2 separate regions of the Homo sapiens genome follow, and region 1 is linked to region 2. The links come from fine-mapping of genetic effects on gene expression. A gene starts in region 2. The other region holds a variant in brackets. All regions are shown on one strand. Distances are between the middles of the regions. Region 1 overlaps SCAMP2 (secretory carrier membrane protein 2). Region 2 holds the start of SCAMP2 (secretory carrier membrane protein 2).

Region 1 (2,798 bases), 29 kb after region 2:
CTTGGGCTCAAGCGATCCTCCTGCCTCAGCCTCCCAAAGTGCTGGGATTACAGGTGAGAGCCATAGCACCCAGCCCGGTGCTACTTCTGACTCTGTGAAGGCAGCAACCACATCCTCCCTTTCAGACCTCACATAACCAGAAGATTCCCCTTGTGAATGGGGTAGTGTGGGCCTGTCAGCCTTCACGGAGGTCTGGCCTCACAGGCCAAGGGCTTCTGGCTCACAGGGCTCCCTGTGCTGTGGGGAGATGCCAAGGTGATGGTCAGGACACAGCAGCCACTTGGAGAAGAGCCCCTTATGCTGACTTTTGGAGCCCACTCCCACTTTGCTCCCTCTGGCCTCTTCTTCCCTTTATAGCGGTTGGATTGCAGCCCTGTCTACACTGGATAATCATTCCCTGGCCATATCAGTCATCATGATGGTGGTGGCTGGCTTCTTCACCCTCTGTGCCGTGCTCTCAGTCTTCCTCCTGCAGCGGGTGAGTGGTGTGGGCAGGGCTGACAGCAAATGGGAGGAGGCAGGCAACCGTTTCCTGCCCTTGCCACGAGATGTTTTTCACCACTGCAGTTGGGCATCCTAGGCCCCCAAAGGTCCAGTACCTTTCTCCAGGGATCTGGGTGGGGGGTCAGGCAGTGCCAGGCTTCTGGTGACCCCTTTGGGAGTATAACCTGGATGGCTGGCTTCCTGGTGGGCCCAAAGGACAGGCTTCTCTCACCCCACCCCTCTTCGCCAGGTGCACTCCCTCTACCGACGGACAGGGGCCAGCTTCCAGCAGGCCCAGGAGGAGTTTTCCCAGGGCATCTTCAGCAGCAGAACCTTCCACAGAGCTGCTTCATCTGCTGCCCAAGGAGCCTTCCAGGGGAATTAGTCCTCCTCTCTTCTCTCCCCCTCAGCCTTTCTCTCGCCTGCCTTCTGAGCTGCACTTTCCGTGGGTGCCTTATGTGGTGGTGGTTGTGCCCAGCACAGACCTGGCAGGGTTCTTGCCGTGGCTCTTCCTCCTCCCTCAGCGACCAGCTCTCCCTGGAACGGGAGGGACAGGGAATTTTTTCCCCCTCTATGTACAAAAAAAAACAAAGCTCTCTTTCCTTCTCTGGTGATGGTTTGGTAGGATTCTTTTGTCTCTGGAAGCAGTGGGACTGAAGTTCTCTTCGTCCTGTGCACACACAGACACCCCCACACAGTTGGGATCACAGGCTGACCTGGGCCCATCCCAGCTGGAGCTTTCTGCCAGGGTCCTGGGCCTTGACTCCCCCACCCTGCAGGCCTGGCCTGAATCTGGCTTCTTAGACACAGCCCAGTCCTTCCTGCCTGGGCTGGGAATAAGCCTCTCACAGGTTCTGGTGGACAGATCTGTTCCCCAGGTCACTCCAGTGGTCTCCAGGCTTCCAGAGAAGGCTGGTTGCCTCAAGCTCTTCTCTGCCTCATAAACGGATCCAGAGAAGGCTGGTTGCCTTAAGCTCTTCCCTGCCTCGTGTTCCTGAGAAACGGATTAATAGCCCTTTATCCCCCTGCACCCTCCTGCAGGGGATGGCACTTTGAGCCCTCTGGAGCCCTCCCCTTGCTGAGCCTTACTCTCTTCAGACTTTCTGAATGTACA[A/G]TGCCGTTGGTTGGGATTTGGGGACTGGAAGGGACCAAGGACACTGACCCCAAGCTGTCCTGCCTAGCGTCCAGCGTCTTCTAGGAGGGTGGGGTCTGCCTGTCCTGGTGTGGTTGGTTTGGCCCTGTTTGCTGTGACTACCCCCCCCCCTCCCCGAACCGAGGGACGGCTGCCTTTGTCTCTGCCTCAGATGCCACCTGCCCCGCCCATGCTCCCCATCAGCAGCATCCAGACTTTCAGGAAGGGCAGGGCCAGCCAGTCCAGAACCGCATCCCTCAGCAGGGACTGATAAGCCATCTCTCGGAGGGCCCCCTAATACCCAGTGGAGTCTGGTTCACACCCTGGGGGGTGTGTCACTGTGATGGGACACGTAGGAGTCCACCCTTAAAACCAGCACCCTGTCCCTCGAGGCTGCCGAGTGGGTGTGTGGACTGGGGTGCCTTCCCACAAAACTAGCCTCCGGCTCTGGGCCCGAGACAGCCGCAGGCCCCAGCCACTGAATGATACTGGCAGCGGCTGGGGTTTTATGAACTCCTTTCTGGTATTTTTTCCCCTCTATGTACAAATGTATATGTTACGTCTCAATTTTTGTGCTTAAGTAAAAATAAAAACATTTTCAGACAACACGGGTCCACATGTCTGGTGGACTTGGGAGGACGGGGCAGCCCACAGGATTAGGGGCTGGGCGCCGCTGCTAAGATTGGAGAGCGGGGACAGTTAAGATGCAATAAATAGGTCAAGGCCCTTCCTCAGAAAAGTGAAAAGCAGCTGGGAGGCCTGGGAAGCCAACGCGGCCTCTTCCAAAGGCGCCTTCTCGTGCCAGTAGCTCTCCTTTCAGAGCTGCGGGTCCTGGGGAGGGGCCCTGGGAGCCTCCCGGACGCCGTCGCCCCCACACACGCCCGCTCCGCCGCCCGCGCCCTCACGTGGGCGATCTCTAGACGCCTCTGCGCCCGCTAGGAGTCCCCGGAGACCACGCCGGCCGTCCTCCGTTGTTAACTTCTAGGCTCGCGGGGCCTCCGTATCCCCACGTGGGCCCTGCAGGAACTGGCGGGGCGCGTGACCCGGCGAGGCCCAGAGACAGGGGAGGGGCGCCGGGAGCCGGGCGGATCCGCGTCCCCGATGCGCGCTGCATTTCCGGCGGGCGGCGCTGGGGGCAGCGTGGAGCCACCCAGTGCTCGGCCCGCCCCGCAACCCGCCGGAA
Region 2 (2,798 bases):
CCTCCTACCTCTGCCTCCCAAAGTACTGGGATTACAGGCATAAGCCACGCACCCAGCCCTTTATGGAAATTAATTGAAAAATTTTAACAAAGTTCTGTGATAATTTTGCCCCCTTTAAACATATCTTTGATTACAACATGAAGAACAATAGACCAATTAACAGCACTGTATTAGTTCAGGGTAAAAATGACAGTGGCTGGGATTCGGTGACAGCAGAGATGAATAATACCAGACAGATCCAAATAAATAAGGTGGATTTGGCCAGACAGTGGTTCATGAGTATAATCCTAGCATTTTAGGAAGCCAAGGCGGGAGGATCACTTCAGCCCAGGTGTTTGAGACGAGCCTGGGCAATATAGTGAGATCCCCATCTCTACAAAAAATCCATAAATTAGCTGGGTATGGTGGTGACCAGCTGTAGTCCCAGCTACTCAGGAGGCTGAGGTGGGAGGATTGCTTGAGCCCAGGAGCTCGAGGCTGCAGTGAGCCATGATTGCACCACTGCACTCCAGCCTGGGCGACAGTGAGACCCTGTGGGGGGCGGGGGCGGGGGAAAGCGGAGCTGTGGAGAGTGAAGCAGCCACCTCCCCCATGATTGAGGCTGTGTTGCTGAATTCCGTGAGTCACTTCATAAATGTTTGATGTCCAGGTTCAAGTCCCAACTCAGGTCCCAAAGCTGATGGGCCCAGGAACCCTCGTCCCTAAAACGATGAAACGACATCAGAGGGCGAGCAGCCCTAGAAGAAGCAGGCTCAGCTCGGGTGGAGGACTGCTGGATGGTCCTGGCACTTCTCTTTCCCCGAGCACGTTCTGCAGAAGAAGCGCTTTCCTAGTTCTCCCAAGGCCTCTGGCCTCACCTGTCACCCCTGTCCTTTGCCCAGGGATCAGTTTGGACTTCTTCCCAAACTTGGTCTACAGAGAAGTGAAGGGGCTGTTTCCTGTCCCACTTTTGAGAGTTTGCTTTAGAAACATAAAATTGGAAGGTGTCAGATTGATAGGCAGTTGGGAAGGACTCCGGCCACGCCTCTGGCTCCGTAGACGCTCCGCGCAGCCAAGACCCCTGAATCCCCAGCAGAGCGAAGATGTGGACGGAAGCCGAATGCCCACCCACCGCACTATTGTGGGCTGGGCGGGGGGGGGGGGGGGGGGGGCGGAGCGACCCCGGTGCCGTCATAGGGCCACGCCCTCGGGGGAGGGCATCGCGCCTGCGCCAGAACCGCTGCCTCGCTCCCGGAAGTGGAGGGTCTACACGAAGCGCCGCTGGGTCTGGGTGCCCGGAGGCAGCAGCGTTCGCGGAGTTCGCCCGCTGGCCCCCGATCACCATGTCGGCTTTCGACACCAACCCCTTCGCGGACCCAGTGGATGTAAACCCCTTCCAGGTAGAGCCCCTCTCCCGCCATCCAGCTCTCAGATTTCCCTAGGGCCCACGGCCGCCGCCCGGGCCTCTCGCTAGAGCCGGGAGACGTGGCGTAGGAGGGACGGGTCATCTGCCCAATGGGAGAGCGGGCTTTGAGGTCTGGCCTATCGTAACGCGTGAGGGGCGCGACTAGCAGCAGGTGGAACTGCAGAGGAGGCGGGGCGCTGAAGTGTTGGAGACAGTGGGGTCTTCTAGCACCCGGAGGCTGGGCTGTGCTAGGGAAGGGGACTGGAGCAGGTACGGTCGGACCCTTCCGGAAGTCTCCTAGCGTCAGGGAGAAGCGAAATGTGGCTATCGCATTCCCTCATTCTTGGATAGACACCTGTCTTGAGTCACTTTAGAAGAGGGGGTGACAGCAACATATGAGGAGGTGGTGAAGCCTCTGGTGGAGGGGAAAAATGTGGGAAAAGCCCAGGACACCTGCCACCGCTCCACCACCAGCCAAACTAGTGTATAAAGTACAGGAGAGCCCCTGAGATTTGTCAGGGAAAGAAAGATGGGAGAGGGCGGGAAGGTAGCCCAAGTTGAAAAATGGCCTTGATAAGAATTCCACATTTTGGCCATGGGTCTAGTTTGGAGTGGGTTTTGACCAGATAGGAGAGCCCGGGTTAGGGAGAGAGGAGAGGTGCGGGGGACTGTGAAAAATTCTGGACCCACAGGGAACGTTTGTCTGATGGAACTGTGTGTGGTGGCAACATAGTTGAGATGCACTGACGTGTGAGCTGGCCTGACTTTTTTTTTTTTTTTTGAGACGGAGTCTCGCTTTGTCGCCCAGGCTGGAGTGCATTGGCACGATTTCCGCTCACTGCAACCTCTGCCTCCCGAGTTCAAGCAATTCTCCTGCTTCAGCCTCCTGAGTAGCTGGGACTACAGGCGTATGCCACCACACCCAGCTAATTTTCATACTTTTAGTAGAGACGGGGTTTCACCGTGTTGGCCAGGCTGGTCTCAAACTCCTGACCTCAGGTGATCCATCCGCCTCGGCCTTCCAAAGTGCTGGGATTACAGGTGTGAGCCACCACGCCTGGCCTGACCTTTTGAACAGCAATCAAGGAAGAAACAATCTTCCTGCTTTCTTTCTTTTCCTTTTTTTTTGTTTTGTTTTGTTTTGTTTTTTGAGACAATTCTTGCTCTGTCGCCCAGGCTGGAGTGCAGTAGCGCGATCTCGGCTCACTGCAGCCTCAGCCTCCTGGGTTCAAGTGATTCTCGTGCTTCAGCCTCCCGAGAAACTGGGATTACAGGTGTGCACCACCACACCCGGCTAATTTTTGTATTTTTAGTAGAGACGGGGTTTCACCTTATTGGCCAGACTGGTCTCAAACTCCTGGCCTGAAGTGATCCACCCACCTTAGCCTCCCAAAGTGCTGGGATTACAGGGGTG

The links. PIP is the estimated chance that this variant, and not a neighbour inherited with it, causes the effect.
Region 1: its variant is fine-mapped to the expression of SCAMP2 in blood mononuclear cells (TOPMed, PIP above 0.99).

The regions. Positions count from the first base shown.
Region 1 is chr15:74,843,153-74,845,950 of GRCh38, reverse strand. SCAMP2 (secretory carrier membrane protein 2) reads left to right here. Exons shown (of 9, transcript NM_005697.5): 8 at 358-478; 9 at 734-2,221. The coding sequence ends at 868. ULK3 (unc-51 like kinase 3) reads left to right here and starts at 2,795. Exons shown (of 16, transcript NM_001099436.4): 1 at 2,795-2,798. RefSeq lists a silencer at 2,314-2,798 and an enhancer at 2,296-2,798. The variant A/G (reference allele first, on the strand shown) is at 1,598.
Region 2 is chr15:74,871,780-74,874,577 of GRCh38, reverse strand. It overlaps SCAMP2 (secretory carrier membrane protein 2), which reads left to right and starts at 1,213. Exons shown (of 9, transcript NM_005697.5): 1 at 1,213-1,379. The coding sequence starts at 1,323.